Linked DNA regions of Homo sapiens: region 2 is linked to region 1. A link means that fine-mapping ties the variant in region 1 to the expression of a gene that starts in the linked region. Tissue or cell type: monocytes. Region 1 holds a variant in brackets; the other region holds the start of a gene. All regions are shown on one strand. Distances are between the middles of the regions.

Region 1 (8,104 bases):
GGAGAGAACTAGTTGAAGGATTAGAGAAAACAATGCCAGCTATTCACAGAACTGGGAATAGTGCCCGGCCCAAACATTTGAGGAAGAACTCACACCATTTCTACCCAAACTCTTCTGTAAAATTGAAGAGAATATGTTACAACTAATTCTATGAGACCTGCATGATTCTGATACCATAACCAGACAAAGACATTGCGAGGAAAGAAAACCCCAAACAAGACTCCTCATGAGCGTAGACGTTAACGTGCTAAACCCAACTGTGGCAAATCTAATCTAACAGTGTTTACAAAGGATGGTACGACATAACCAAGTAGGGTTTATCCTGATTTTGCAGGGTTGATTTAGTATTAATATTTGAAAATCAGTGTAATTCACCATATTAAGCTAAAAAAGAAAAATCTTGTGTTTATCTCAATAGGTACAGAAAAAGTATTTGACAAAATCTCATGTTTGCCCTGGTGTGATGTAGCAGAAAGTTTTTTATAGGAAGCTAAGGGATCCTAAGTAGCAGGGGATAAATAGGATAAATAGACTTAGAACACAAGTGAGGAGTCTGAACTCTACAGAGTTTTATATATATATATATATTTATATATATATATATATATATATATATATATTTTAAATAATTAAAATTAAGGCTGGGCGCGGTAGCTCACGCCTGTAATCCCAGCACTTTGGGAGGCTGAGGTGGGCAGATCACCTGAGGTCGGGAGTTCGAGACTAGCCTGACCAACATGGAGAAACCCCGTCTCTACTAAAAATACAAAATTAGCTGGGCACGGTGGTGCATGCCTGTAATCCCAGCTGCTCGGGAGGCCGAGGCAGGAGAATTGCTTGAATCCGGGAGGCAGAGGTTGCAGTGAGCTGGTATCGTGCATTGCACCCCAGCCTGGGCAACAAGAGCAAAACTCCATCTCAAAAAAAAAAAAAAAACAGTTAAAATTAAATAAATTTCATTTATTTTATTATTTTATTTTATTTTTGAGAGAGAGTCTCAAAAAAGCCTCCCAGGCTGGAGTGCAGTGGTGCCATCTCAGCTCGCTACAACCTCCGCCTCCTGGGTTTAAGCAGTTCTCCTGCCTCCGCCTCCCGAGTAGCTGGGATTACAGGCACGTGCCACCACGCCCGACGAATTTTTGTTATTTTTAGTAGAGGTGGGGTTTCACCGTGTTGGCCAGGCTGGTCTTGAACTCCTGGCCTCAAGTGATCTCCCTGGCTTGGCTTCCCAAAGTGCTGGGATTACAGGCATGAGCCACCGCGCCTGGCCCTCTACACAGAGTTTAAAAAAAAAAAAAAATCCAACAGCTATTCCTGATTAAAAAACAAAAACAAAAACAATACCCTCAGCAAAGTGAGAAAAGAAGGGAACTTCCTTAACCTGATAAAGGGGATCTCTGTAAAACCTACAGCTAACATCACTCTTAATGGTGAAAGACTGAATACTTTTCCCTAATCTCAGGAGAAAGACAAGAATGTCTGTTCTCACCACTTTTGTTCTAGCTAGTGTACTGAGGCGAGAAAAAGAAACAAAAGGTAGCTGGATTAGAAAGGACGACACAGTAAAACTGTCAGTTCACAGACAACATGATCATCTGTGTAGAAAATCTGATGGAATCTACAAAAAATCTTCTGGAACTAATAAGTGAGTTTAGTAAAGTTGTAGGATACAAAATCAATATCCAAATACCAATTGTTTCTCTATATGCTGGCAATGGATAATCAGAAATGGTAATGTAAAAATAGCACCATTTATAATAACATTAAAAATAAGAAATGCTTAGGAATAGATCTGGCAAAAATGTGTTAGACCCGTACACTGAAAACTACAAAACATTGTTGAGAGAAGTCAAAGGAGATTTAAATAAGTGGAAAGACATAGCATGTTCATGGGCTGGGAAATTCAGTATTGTTAAGGTATCAATTCTCCCCAAATTGATCTATAGATTCAAAGAAATCCCAGTTAGATCCCAGCAAGGCTTTTTATAAAAATTAACAAGCTGATTCTGAAATTCACATGGAAATGTAAAGGACCTAGAAGAGCCAAAACTATTTTGAAAAAGACAAACTTGAGGAACCCTGCCTGATTTCAAGACTTACTGTATGGCTGTCCTATCAAGACAGTGTGGTAGTCATGTCATGATGGACAAACAGATGAAGGGAAAAAAATAAGAGAGCTAGATAACAGACCCACACATAGGTGGACAGCTGATTTTTGACAGAAGTGCAAAGGTAATTTAGTGGAAATAGTCTTTTCCAAAATGAGTGCTGGAATAATTGGATATCCATAATCAAAAAATGAACTGCAAGCCATACTTTGCACCAAATACAAAAATTATCTCAAAATGAGTCATAGACCTAAATGTAAAACCTGAAACTATAAAACTTCCAGAAGAAAACATAGGAGAAAACCTCTGTGACCTATGATTAGTCCAAGATTTCTTGGCTCCAAAAGCATGCTCCATAAGAGAATGAATCGATAAATTGAACTTCACAATTAAAAATTTACATTAAAAAATACTCTTTAGAGACTGAAAAGACAAGCAAAATACTAAGAGAAAATATTTGCAAATAATGTATTTAATGAATGACTTGTATTCAGAATATATAGAGAATTCTCAAAGCTCAAAAATAAGAAAACATTCAACCCGGCTGGGCGTGGTGGCTCACACCTGTAATCCCAGCACTCTGGGAGGCTGAAGCCGGTGGATTGCTTGAGCTCAGGAGTTTGAGGCCAGCCTGGGCAACATGACAAAACTCCGTCTCTACAAAAAAATACAAAAATTAGTCAGGCATGGTGGCATGCACCTGTAGTTTCAGCTACTTGGGAGGCTGATGTGGGAGGGTTGCTTGAGCCTGGGAGGCAGAGGTTGGAGTGAGCTGAGATTGTGCCACTGCACTTCAGCTTGGGTGACAGAGGGAGATCCTGTCTCAAAAAAAGAAAAGGAAAAGGAAAAACATACAACCCAGTAAGAAGTGTGCAAAATATTTGAACACTGCAAATCGGTTGTACAGATGGCAGATGAGCACATGAAAAGATGCTCAACATCATTAGACATTTAAAAAATGCAGGCCAGGCATGGTGGCTCACACCTGTAATCCCAGCAGTTTGGGAGGCCGAGGTGGGTGGATCACGAGGTCAGGAGATTGAGATCATCCTGACCAACAGGGTGAAACCCTGTGTCTACTAAAAATACAAAAATTAGCCAGGCTTGGTGGCGGGTGCCTGTAGTCCCAGCTACTTGGGAGGCTGAGGCAGGAGAATTGCTTGAACCCGGGAGGCGGAGGTTGCAGTGAGCTGAGATCACGCCACTGCACTCCAGCCTGGGGAGAGAGCAACACTCTGTCTCAAAAAAAAAAAAAAAAAAAAAAAGCAAACTAAAACCGCAGTGAGCTACCACTGCATGTGTATTAAAATGGCTAAAATGAAGAAGACTCTGCAAGGCAAGTATTGGTGAGAACATGGAGGAACTGGAACTCTAATATACTACTGTTGGGAATGTAAAATGGGACAGCCATTTAGGAAAACAGTGTGGCAATTTCCTATGATTCAGCCATTCCTCTCTTAGGCATTTATTCAAGAGATATGAAGCTATATGCCCGCACAAAGGCTTGTGCAGAGATAGAGTATCTTTATTTGTAATGGCCCCAAATGTGAACACCTAGTTGTCCATTTGCAGTTGAACAGATGAACAGACTGTGATAAATCCATACTACTTAGCAATAAAAGTAAGTGAGCTCTTCCTACATGCTAGAATATGAATGAATCAGAATGATTTTGCTGAGTGGAAGAAGTGAGGTGAAAGAGTATAAAGCAATTTTGTTTTGTTTTGTTTTTTGTTTTTTTTTTTTTGAGACAGAGTCTTGCTCTGTCGCCCAGGCTGGATTGCAATGGCGCAATCTCCGCTCACTGCAACCTCCACCTCCCAGGTTCAAGCGATTCTCCTCCCTCAGCCTCCTGAGTAGCTGGGACTACAGGTGTGTGCCACCACGCCCGGCTAATTTTTTTGTATTTCTGGTAGAGATGGGGTTTCACTGTGTTAGCCAGGATGATATTGATCCCCTCACCTCGTGATCTGCCCACCTCGGCCTCCCAAAGTGCTGGGATTACAGGTGTGAGCCACTGTGCCCGGCCATATGAAGGCATTTATGTGAAATTCTAGACAATGCGTACCTGACTGTAATGACAGGATGGTTCAGTGGTTGCATGGGGATGGCATAGAGGAGGGATAGGATGGGTAGGTGAGAGGGATTACAAAGAGGCACAAGGAAACTTGGTGAGTGTATTAGTCCGTTCTCGCGCTGCTAATAAAGACATACCCAAAACTGGGTAATTTATAAAGGGAAGAAGTTTAATTGACTCACCGTTCAGCATGGCTGGGGAGGCCTCAGGAAA[C/A]TTACAGTCATGGTGGAAGGGGAAGCAAACACATCCTTCTTCACATGGTGGCAGGCAGGAAGGAGAAGTGCTGAGCAAAAGGGGAAAAGACCCTTATAAAACTGTCAGATCTCTTGAGAACTCACTCACTGTCACAAGAATAGCATGAGGGTAACTGCCCCCATGATTCAATTCCCTCCCACCAGGCCCCTCCCATGACATGTTTGGATTATGGGAACTACAATTCAAGATGAGATTTGGGTGGACACAGCCAAACCATATTGGGGGTGATGGAAATATGTCTTTGCAATCCAATATGTATTTTACACTTAGTTTAGACTGGCCCCATTTTAAGTGCTCAGTAGCCACATGTGCTATTTGTAGAATGTTCCTCAGCTTAGGTTTGTCTGGAGCTTCCTCCTAATTAGATCTAGGAGTTTTAACTTTGCAGATATAATATGGAAGCGGTGTTGTGTTCTCTCTGCATCCTACCAGGTCGGCTACGGTGTTGATGGGGTCAGCCAGGTTTCTCCAGTGTACAATTACTCTTTTTCTATGTGATTAATAAGTATATTGCAGGGAGGTACTTAGAGACAAGGTAAATATCTCATTCTTGGCCCGGTGCAGTAGCTGATGCCTGTAATCCCAGCAGTTTGGGAGGCTGCAGCAGGTGGATCACTCAAGCTCAGGAGTTTGAGACAAACCTGGGCAACATGGCGAAACACTGTATCTACATAAAATAAAAAAATTAGTCGGGCCTGGTGGCATGAGCCTGTAATCACAGGTACTCAGAGGCTGAGGTGGGAGGATCCCTTGAACCCGGGAGGCAGAGGTGGCAGTGAGCCAAGATCATGCCAGTGCACTCCAGCTGGGTGACAGAGCAAGACCCTGTTCCAAAAAATAATCCCACTCTTCATCCCATTTTTACCTATTAGTTTTAAAATACTTCCCTGGATTCATTCTTATTTTATGGTTGCCAGACTGCTGTGAGGTACAGTTCTATACTCTCCAGCACTAACATTTTAGAACTAATTACACTGTATTATCATGTTTAATGTTAATTTTTATGAGGTTTTAAATTATCTATTGTTTTAAGGACAAGTTAGGTAAAAATGTCTGAAGTTTTAGATTTAAAAATTTAGGTTTAGAAATACTTCAGTGAGCAGAGTAAATAATTTGATGTTTGGGCAAAAACCAGGTCGCTGAAATACATGTGTCAAAACTAGATGAGTGAGTCAAGTATCATGGTCACGTTGGGGTTTGATAAAGATTTTCTGTTTTTGTCAACTCTCTTATCTGCCTTCATCCCGGGTTTGTTTCCAGCGTGCTGATTGACATGCCTGTATCTGCTTCGTCGTCTCACGCTGGACTCCTGTACATCATCAGGCTACGTGCGTTGATGGTGAATCAGCGATGTTGACATTTTGGTTTAGTATTCCATCCTGTCTGTAGTCCTATTTGTAAGCACCTTCTCTTTCCAAGGAAGACTCAGTCATAATTAGAAGCTGGCTCCAAGTACATTTTCCTTCTGTTTTTAGTGATTTCATTTATAGATCTCCCCTTTGGCAATGATGAACAGTTAATCAGCATACCACTGTCAGAGCCGGTCTGCCTTTCAGTTAATCAAGGGAGATAAAGTCTGGGATCATAACTGAAAAGTGGCAAAAAATGAGTATGAAAAGTAACATCTAACGTGTGACTCGATGAATTTCTCAACATACAGAATTGACAGCCGGCAGTTATTAAGTGCTTAGACAGGAATCTTTGGGTTCAAGAAGCTCTGTAACCACAAGGAAATTGATGTTGCTTTTGTGTCTCTGGCTCTTGCTGGCCTAGATGTGTCCAAGTCCTGCCCGTTCTTCATGTCTGCAGCCTGGGAGTCCAGGCTGGACTGCTCCACCGCAGCCCTTTCAGGCCAGCATGGAGTTGCTGAGCCAGGATTTCTGTGCGCTTCACGCTCCCCTAAGCACACACATCATGTGTTTGGGAATGCATTTTGAACTGGATCCCAGACATGAGAGAGGTTATGTGCTGATGCGTGGAAGTACTGGGAATGGATTCAGTGGGATTACCACAGACCCCGCTGGCTGGAACAGGGAAGCCATTTTTCAAAGGCATGAATTCAAGTCCTGTTTCTTCCAGGGTCTGGGGAAAGTTCTTTTACTTTTCTGAGTCTCAGCTTTCTGTGTTATAAGGGACATCACATTCATTTCATGGAAGAGTCTTGAGGATTAAGCAAGGGAATGTATGTTCAGCGCCTGGCACAGAGTGCTTGTGGGCACACGTTCACTTCATGCTCACCACTGCCTCTTCCTTCCTTTTCTGCCCCTTAACTTGCCATCTAATCCCAATTGCTGGGGGTGAGTGGTGGGGGGTGACTATCAGAAGACCCATGGTGCTGGTATGATAGTGTGATAGGAATTATTTTATAGACCACAGGGCTGAATTCTCTTGGGGTTTTCCTAGAAAATTCACAAAGCATGGTCACCACTTGTACCACACATCTTCCTCGGTTCGTGGACGGATACGTCTTGAGTGTCAGCTGAATGTTGGGCTGCTGTGGTGAATAGGATGAGCAGATCCCAGCCTTCAGGGAGCTGGCATTCTGCTTAGAAAGAGAAAGACCGTAACTCGGAGGCAGACAGTGTGGTAGTTTGGGGTGCTAAGTGCTGGAAGGAAGCATTGAGTCCCTCGGTAGAGCGGGCCTGGGGTGTGGCTTTGGCCAGGGCCTCTGTTCAAACCTTTCTGTGGAGCTGCCATATGTGGCGATGCTCGGGTGATGAGGGGCAGCCCTGCAGAGATATGCGGGAGACGCTTTCCAAAGGGAAGGCAGCATGAGTGAAGGGGCTGAGATGGGGAGGAGCTTGGTGTGGGGGAGTGGGGGACAGAAAGGCAGGTGGCAACATAGGTCAGGGGATGGAGCCCCAGACATCTTCCAGGCTGAGTGCTGGGACCTGGCTCCACTCAGCTGCATGTGGAGGACAGACAGATGGAGAAGGCTAGAGGGGACACCGGGAGAATGTTGGAGGCTGTTGTCTGCTTCAGACTGTAGTGAGTGGGGAAAGGGAAGGGCGTGCGCCTGTCAGAGCGACTGCAGTCAGCCGCCTTCATACCAGCCACTTCTTAGCCCCTGCTTAGCCCAGAATGGGCACCAAATTGAGTCCTCCACGGATAAAGTGTGAACATAAACGGAGACCAGGCAGCAGAACAGGCAGCAGCTGCTTATTTAGAGCTTGCTCCAGCAAGAGAGGCAGCCTCCACTTGGGTTTAGCAGAGACTCCAGGAAGGCAGAGGAGTGGGGAGGCTTCAGGTGTGCCTGAGTGGAGGCTGCTGGCCAGGGCAAGGTGGAGACAGCTAACCAGAAGTGGGGCGTCCTATGTGATTGGTTAGAAGTACATATGTGGCTTTCTCTGGTTTGTTGTCTCTTAGAAACAGGGATAAAAATTAGGGAAGCTGGCAAGCATGGTGGTACATGCCTGTAGTCCCAGCTACTTGGGAGGCTGAGGCGGGAGGAACACTTGAGGCTAGGAGTTTGAGACCAGCCTGGGCAACATTGCGAGACCTCAGGGTCTGCAGAAGAAACAAAGTTAGCTGAGCGTAGTGGCTCGTGCTTGTAGTCCCAGCTACTGGGGAGACTGAGGTGGGGGGATCACTTGAGCCCAGGAGTTCAAGGCTATAGTGAGCTATGATTGCACCACTGCTCTCCAGCCTAGATGACAGAGCGAGACC
Region 2 (8,088 bases), 65 kb before region 1:
AAAGCTCAAAGGAGGCAACAGTAAAGATTTATTCATTTAGGCCAGGCACGTTTGCTCGCATCTATAAATCCAACACTTTAGGAGGCTGAGGCAGGAGGACTGCTTGAGACCAGCAGTTCAAGACTAGCCTAGGCAACATAGCAAGATCCTGTCTCTAAAAATATAAAAACAATTAGCCAGCCGTGGTGGCACACACCTGTAGTCCCAGCTACTCAGGAGGCTGAGGTGGAAGGATTACTTGAACCCAGGTATTGGATGCTACAGTGAGCTATGATTGTGCCACTGTGCTCCAGCCTGGGAAATAGAGAGAGACCATGGCTCTAAAAAAAAAAAAAAGGTATTCATTTAACAAATACATAGTTTGTACTACATACCAGGTACTGTTTTGTATGCTTGACATATATTAACTCATTTAGTCATCACTACAATGGCATAGTCACTATAATCTCATAAATGCAGAAACTGAGGCTCTGGGAAGTCAGTTACACAGTAAGCAGCAAAGCCAGCATTTGCACTGGGTGATCTGGCTCAAGTCCATACTGTCACTCCCCAGCTATACGTTTTGACAGGTAACAACAGACATATACATTGATTGTGGACCCACTGGGTGTTGGACATTGTGTGAAGTAGCTTATAAAACATGTCATCAACCCTCAAGAAAGTTCACTTTTACAAATGTGAGGAAGAACAGTACTTAGGCGGCTTCTGTCCTGGCCTCACTCCCAGGTACCAGTGAGGGCAGTCGAGAGGTGGGGCATCTAATCCCAAACGCTCTCCTCCATCGTCCCAGATGGGGTGGGTGGAAGAGGGCAGGGAGATGGGGGAGGTAGAAAAGGTTCTCTCTTCTCATGTATTTATGTATTTGTTTATTTTGAGACAGAGTCTCGCTCTGTCACCCAGGCTACAGTGCAGTGGCACAATCATAGTTCACTGCAGCCTTGACCACCTGGGCTCAAGCCATCCTCCCACCTCAGCCTCCCAAATAGCTGGGGCTAGAGGCACCTGCTACCACGCCTGGCTAAGTTTTTAAATTTTTTTTGTAGGAACAGGATCTCACTATGTTGCCCAGGCTGGTCTCAAACTCCTGGGTTCAAGCGATCCTCTCTCAGCCTCCCAAAGTGCTGGGATTACAGGTGTGAGTCACTGCGCCCAGCTTGTCACTTCTTTGACAATTCATTTCAGCTCCTTTTTGAACTGGGAGCATTAGAAAACTGAACACCCCCACCCTTGCCCTGGGCATTTTGCAACCGGGATTGTATTGTATTAAACATATCAGTCATTGAGTCACTTCCTAGCATTTGGAAACCCTTAGGTTATCTCGGACCTGCCGGTAACTGCATGTGTTGTAAATGGGGTGAGTGACTGCAGGTTTTCCTCCCTGCTGCCTCCCCAGCGTCTCCCTCCAGATTCAGATCCAGAGGCCCAGGGTGGGGCCCAGGAATCTGCATTGTTGCTTTTACAACTCAAGCCAAGGTGAATACACTGGCCCAAGTTCCTTGGCATGGCATTCAAGGCTTTCCACAATGCAGCCCAGCCCAACTTTCCATCCATCTCTGGCTTCTGCTTACTCCCTAGGTTCTGTACACAGTGCCCTTTCACACTTCCCAGCCTCCGCCCACTCTGTGCCTCCCTTTACCTCCCATCCTCTACCTGCCAGACTCCCCTGCTCTACTCACAAGGCTAGCTCAGGGTCCCTGGGTGCTGGGAAGCCTGGCCCAGTGACCTTTGAAGAGCTGATCCCCTCTGGCTTGTGGTCCTGCAGCCGCTGGTGCATCCGCACCCTCCCAGCCCTCACGTCTGTCTTCCTGCAGAGGGGGTGCTCCTTGAGGCAAGCACCAGTGCCCAGAACACCACCCAGGGCCTCGCAGGAGCTGAATGAGTGCTAGTGAGTGAATGAGTGGCTTAGCAGGTCACCTCCCATTCATGGGCTGGGCTAGCCGAGTTCTAAGAAACCCCTGCAGGACCCTGGAATGCCCTAATGTGCAGGACACCCTGGCCAAACCTACACCTGAGCCTGTTTCCCCATTGGACTTTGGGATTTTGATAAAGGCACTGAGGTCCCAGCAAATGCCTTGGGCTCCTCATAGGCTACTGGGGGCAGGGAAGTGCAGTGGGTCATGCCTCCCAGAGGGCTGGGGAAGGGGAGAGACTAGAACTGGAGCAGGGTTAGCGCTGGCCTGGGGGCATTCCTTGAACCCCAGAAGCAGACAAACTAGTGGTCCCCTATCTTGCTTAAGTCTAAGAAATCCAGATTTTGTTTAAAAAAAAAATCAGGGCTCAGTGGCTCACACCTGTCATCCCAGCATTTTGGGAGGCCGAGGTGGGAGGATCACTTGAGGCCAGCCTGGACAACATAGTGAGACACCATCTTTATAAAATAAATTTTTAAAAATAAAATAAAGATCAGATTCCTGGGTTTACTGAATCTGAATCTCAGGGCAAGGACCTGGGAATCTGCATTTTAAGCAAATCTCCCGGAGATTCTGGTTATTGTGGGGGCTCCTCAAACGTGATTGAGAGATGGAGAGCAGCTGGCTCTGGCGTGGGATTGCCTGGGCTCTAGTCCTGCTGCCCCACGGACTCCCAAGTGGGCGGCACCTTAGGGCAAGTTACTAAAGCGGCTGGGGTCTTGGTGACCTCATCTGTACAATGTCCATGACGCACAGCACCGGCCACAGAGAAGTTAGTGGGAGGTTTCACTTGGCATCCTTTCAGTAAAACAAGTCCCAGTCAATGATCGCGATTATTGGGTCCATCTGATATTCGGAGGCGGAGACCGCCCCGATTCACTGACCTACTACTCAAATTTACAGTTCTCAGAACTTTCCCCACCCTTTCTCTCTCCGAAGTCCTCACTGACTTCCTGAGCGCAGGGCTGGGCGCCACTGCCCGGAGAAGAGGGGCTGCGTGGCCTCCGACAGCCTAACCCCAAGCCCCCCACCCCCGCAGGCCGTCCCGGCGGAGGTCTCACTGCCAGCACCGGCTTTGGGGAGCGCTGGGTGTCCACGTACCCCGGGCCTCGCGCCTCCGCTGCCGTTCGGCGGCAAGGACGGAACCGGGCGCTGCTCCGCGCGCACCGAGAGTCGCGGGCTCGGGCCCCGCTCGGAGTCGGGGTGGTCCCCGTGGTCCCCGCCGGCGGCCGAGCCCTTCCCGAACGCCCTCAGCCGGCGTGCCCGGGCGATACCTTCGCAACCCGATCCGCGCGCGGGCCCCGGATCCTACCTGCGCGCCCCTGCTCCATTCGCCGTCCGGGCGCCCAAGCGGGAAGTGGGGGACCCCTGGGTGGCCCTTCCCTGGCCCGCGCCGCGCGGGGCTTTCCTGGGCGCGGAGACCCAGCCCGCCCCGGCTTCCTGCTCCCCGCCCCGGCGCCCGGCAGATTTGCATGCGCCGCCCCGCCCGGCGCGCCCGGCCCGGGTCCCGGCCACCTCGCGCCCCTGTCGCTGTCCCCGCCGCCGCCGCCGGACAGTCCGAGCCGCCGTCCTCTCCTGGGGGCGACCCCAGCACCTCGCTGGGTGTCTTGCCGCGCGCTTCCTCCCACGCCGTAGCCCGAGGTCACGCCCAGCGGAGAACTCTGCAGTGGATCCCCTTGGTCTCGGAATAAAACGCCCACGCCGACCAGGCCTCCAGGACCTGCTCCTGCCTGGCCTCCGCGGCCTCTTTTGCGCCGGGGCAGTTGCGTTTGGTGGGGGAGGGCTGGGCGACTGGAATCCTCCTCCCCTTCCTAACAGCCCGGCTTCCAAGTGAGAGTGGTTGCACATTCTTCAATAAATGTTTACCCAACTCCTACTCCAGCCACATTTGGATAGTAAAACAGCCCTTCAATCAGTAACTAGTACAATCTGTCGGGCACTGCAAATGTTAACTCGTTCAATCCTGGCAACTACCCTATAAGGGAGTGATACTATCACCGGTTTTACAAATCAGGAAACTGAGGCACAGAGTCCTTAAGAAATTCAAAATGGGTTGGGCAAAGTGGCTCATGCCTGTAATCCCAGCACTTTGGGAAGCTGAGGCGGGAGGATCACTTGAACCCCATAGTTCGAGACCAGCCTGGGCAACCCTGTTAGCGAGACCCCTATCTACAAAAATTGACATTTATAAAATTTTAAAAAAGAAAAGAAAGAAACTCAGAATCACTCTGCAGGTAAGCAGGAGCAGGGGTGGAGCTGGGATTCGAACACAGGCCCCATAGACCATTAACGTCTGGACACCATAAGAACCCGGATGCAGCCAGATGACTGGGGGGAAAACACTCAACAAAGTATTTCAGGTCAGGAGGGCCCAAGAAGAAAGTAGGGACCTCTTAGACCAGTGGGGCAGGTGGTCTGGAAGAGGCTTTTTGAGTAGAGGCCATTTGAGCTGAGACTCTGAAGAGCCTATGGGGGAAGACTTGTGTAGGGAGAGGGAAGAGCTAGTGCAAAGGCCCTGTGGGAACCAGCTCAGCCTGCAGGAGGAATTGCTGAAGGCCGGCATGGCTGTGGAGCCCTGAGTGAGGAAAGAGCGGAGACAGGGGAGGTGGGAGATATTTGGACTCACACTGGGCAGTGCTGAGAACCCAGAGAGTAATTTGACCCCCTGCTGCCCTCAAGGAGCTCTCAGTTTGAGGGTGGAAGCCAAGGACTGCCCAATGGGATCAAGTGCTGTGGTGGAGGGTGAGGGTTGGCTTCCCAGGGCAGGGGCCACTGCACGTCAATCATTCTTTTTTTTTTTTTGAAGATGGGGTCTCATTCCATTGCCTAGGCTGGAGTGCAGTGGGTGATCTCAGCTCACTGCAACCTCCACTTCCTGAGTTCAAGCAATTCTCCTGCCTCAGCCTCCTGAGTAGCTGGAATTACAAGCGTGCACCACCACGTCCGGCTCATTTTTGTATTTTTAGTAGACATGAGGTTTCACTATGTTGGCCAGGCTGGTATCAAACTCCTGACCTCAGGTGATCTGCCTGCCTCTGCCTCCCGAAGTGCTGGGATTACAGGTGTGAGCCACCACGCCTGGCCCATATGTCAATCATTCTTTCATGTACTTGGTCTGTCTTGGTCCTACTGTGTGTCTAACCTTGTGACAAGCGCTGATGACGCAGACCTGAAGACATGAAACAGACACAATCCCTGCCCTCTGAGACCTTACAACCAAGTGAGCAAGACAGCCACCAACCCACCCCCGGAAGTGACAGTAAAGATAAGTCAGTTCCCTGGGGTCAGGGATGGCTTCCTGGAGGAGGTGACCTCTGACCAGTGCCTGAATCAATGCAGAAAAACATGCAGGTGGAAGGGACAGCATGAGCAAATACCTGGAGGTGGCGTGGGAGTGTGGAAAAACTCCCATCCTTCGGCATCTGTTTGTGGATGCCTCCATATGCCAAGTCGTGAGCTGGGGGCTAGGGAGAGCAAGAAATAGATCCAGCCCCTGCTTCCTAGCCCTGAGGACCTGGTTGGGGCACTGACAAGTGAGCAGACGTAAGCAATTGAAGTGAACAGATGTAAGCAATTGAGTGTAATAAACCCCGTACTGGGGGCAGCCCAGGCAGACGCTAAGAGGACTAGGGAGAGAAGGCCACAGGAAGGGCTTTCCTGGAAGCTTGGGTTTCAGGAGGAATAGGAATCCTCTGGATTAGGTGTGACTTCCACTCCCGTCCACACTCATACTCCCTCACACTCATTACTCACACATCCGCACACCCACACGGTTGATGCTTCATCCCAGGCAGTTCAGCCCTGCAAGCTGCCTTTGTCCTGTCTGTGTTTCTGAGTTTGTGCCCCATGTCATCGGGAGACGACAGCAAAAGTCTACCTTTGAAGTCCTTTGGGAATGTATGGCTTGGGCTATATCCCCTCCTGGACTCCCAAACTGGGCTCCCATCCTGTTTTCCCAGTCAAGTCATCCTTCGTCGGTTTCCTCGCTTGCCTCTAGACTGCCGGCATTGGCATACCAACTCTGCTACGTATTGACTATGTGACTTTGGGCAAAGTAGATCATCCTCCCTGTGCTTCAGTTTCCCCATCTGTAAAATGGGGATAATAATAGACCCACCTCATAGGGCTATGAAATGGTGAAATGGCAAGGTACGTATCGCAGTGCCTAGAATAGTGCCTGGCGTGGATTAGGCATTCAAAATGTCAATTGCTGTTCTTATCAGGATGAAAATGAGAAAGAAGCAAAGTCGAAGCCTGTTGCCTTGGTCTGTTGCTTGGTTGTGAAATGGAGATGAACGTGGCATTGAGAAGACAGGCAAAGAAAGCACAGCTGTGGTCAGAGGCTAAGACATTCAGGAAATCTGGGGGAAGAGACTTCGGGAATTCTTTGTACTCTTCTCCCAACTTTCCCGCCAGTCTGAAATTATGTCAAATTACAAAGTTAAAGAAAACAGGGCATTGTTCTCGGGTGCAAGAGAGATAATAAATGTCTTCTTGCATACAGTCCCACTGTTCAAGTTCCTGCCCAAGATGCCCAGACTTTATCTGTGACTGCTCCGTCAGTCCTGGGAGCAGGTCCAAAGGCACCAAGATAGTAAAACCTCTGTTCCCCCATCTAGGGGTTCCCAAGTCTTGCCTCAGTATAAGCTCAATCCTCATTATATCCTAACACGCTTACTTGTTTCCAAGCCTTTCGGTCTTTAAAACTAATAGAGTTTATTTTTTAGAACCATTGTAGATTATGGAAAAATTGAGCCGATAGTACTGAGAGTTCCCATACATCCCTCTCCCCCATGCAAAATTTCCTCTTTTATCAACATCTTGCATTAGTGTGTAGTGCCTTCCTTATAATGCTGATACATTATTATAAACTAAAGTCCATAGCATACATTGTTTCACTGTTTCTCGGGGTTTTGTTTTGTTTTGTTTTGTTTTGTGTTTGTTTGCTTGTTTGGAAACAAGGTCTCACTCTGTTGCCCAGGCTGGAGCAGCCTGGAACTCCTGGACTCAGGGGATCCTCCTGCTTCTGCCTTCTGAGTAGCTTGGGCTACAAGAACATGCCACCACACTAGGCTTTTTTTTTTTTATACTTTTAGAGACAGTCTTGCTACATTGCCCAAGCTGGTCTCAGACTCCTAAGCTGAAGTTATCCTTCCATCTCAGCCTCCTAAAGTGCTGGGATTACAAGCATGAGCCACTGTGCCTAACCTCTGCAGCACAGTTCTGAGTCTTTTTTTTTTCTTTGAGACAGAGTCTTGTTCTGTCACCCAGGCTGGGGTACAGTGGCGTGATCTCAACTCACTGCAACCTGTGCCTCCCAGGTTCAAGCGATTCTCACTCCTCAGCCTTCCAAGTAGCTGGGACTACAGGTGCACGCCTGGCTAATTTTTGTATTTTTAGTAGAGACGGAGTTTCCCCATACTGGCCAAGCTGGTTTTGAACTCCTGACCTCAAGTGATCCACCAGCCTCGGCCTCCCAAAGTGTTGGGATTACAGGCATGAGCCAATGCACCCAGCCAAGTTCTGGGTCTTAACAATGTATAATGCCATGGATCCACACATGTAGCAACAAAAAGAATAGTTTCCCAGCCTGGGCAACATAGCAAGACCCGGTCTCTACCAAAAAACACAAACAAACAACAACAACAAAAAACAGGCCAGGCATGGTGGTGCACTGTAGTCCCAGCTACTCAGAGGCTGAGGCAGGAGGATCCCTTGAGCCCAGGAGTTCGAGGCTGCAGTGAACTATGATCATGCCACTGCACTCCAGCCTGGGCAACAGAATGAGACCCTGTCTCTAAAAAAAAAAAGAAAAAAATAAAGAATAGTTTTACTTCCCTAAAAATCCCCAATTCTCTACCTATTCTTCCTGGATTCTGGAAACCACTGATTTTTTTACTGTCTCCATAGTTTTGCCTTTTTCAGAATGTCACGTAATTGAAATCAGAAAGTATGTAGTCTCTTAATACTGACTTCTTTTACTTAGCAATATGCTTTTCAGGTTCCTCAATGTCTTTTCCAGGCTTCACACCTCATTTCTTTTGTGGCTGAATAGTGCCCTATTGTATGGATGTACCACAGTTTATCCATTCTACCTATTGAAAGACATCTTTGTTGCTTCCAATTTTTGGCAATTATGAATAAAGCTGCTATCAACACTCATGTGCAAGTTTTTGGG

What was found. PIP is the estimated chance that this variant, and not a neighbour inherited with it, causes the effect.
Region 2: IL4R starts here. The variant in region 1 is fine-mapped to the expression of IL4R in monocytes (Quach 2016, PIP 0.95).

What each region holds. Positions count from the first base shown.
Region 1 is chr16:27,243,676-27,251,779 of GRCh38, reverse strand. The region is part of intron 2 of NSMCE1 (NSE1 component of SMC5/6 complex); the gene reads left to right. Among named protein-coding and RNA genes, the nearest start is that of NSMCE1-DT, 20 kb to the left of the region's middle. The variant C/A (reference allele first, on the strand shown) is at 4,397.
Region 2 is chr16:27,309,155-27,317,242 of GRCh38, reverse strand. IL4R (interleukin 4 receptor) reads right to left here and starts at 3,269. Exons shown (of 11, transcript NM_000418.4): 1 at 3,223-3,269. RefSeq lists silencers at 2,529-2,578, 3,019-3,228, 3,249-3,548 and enhancers at 3,326-4,056, 4,879-6,078.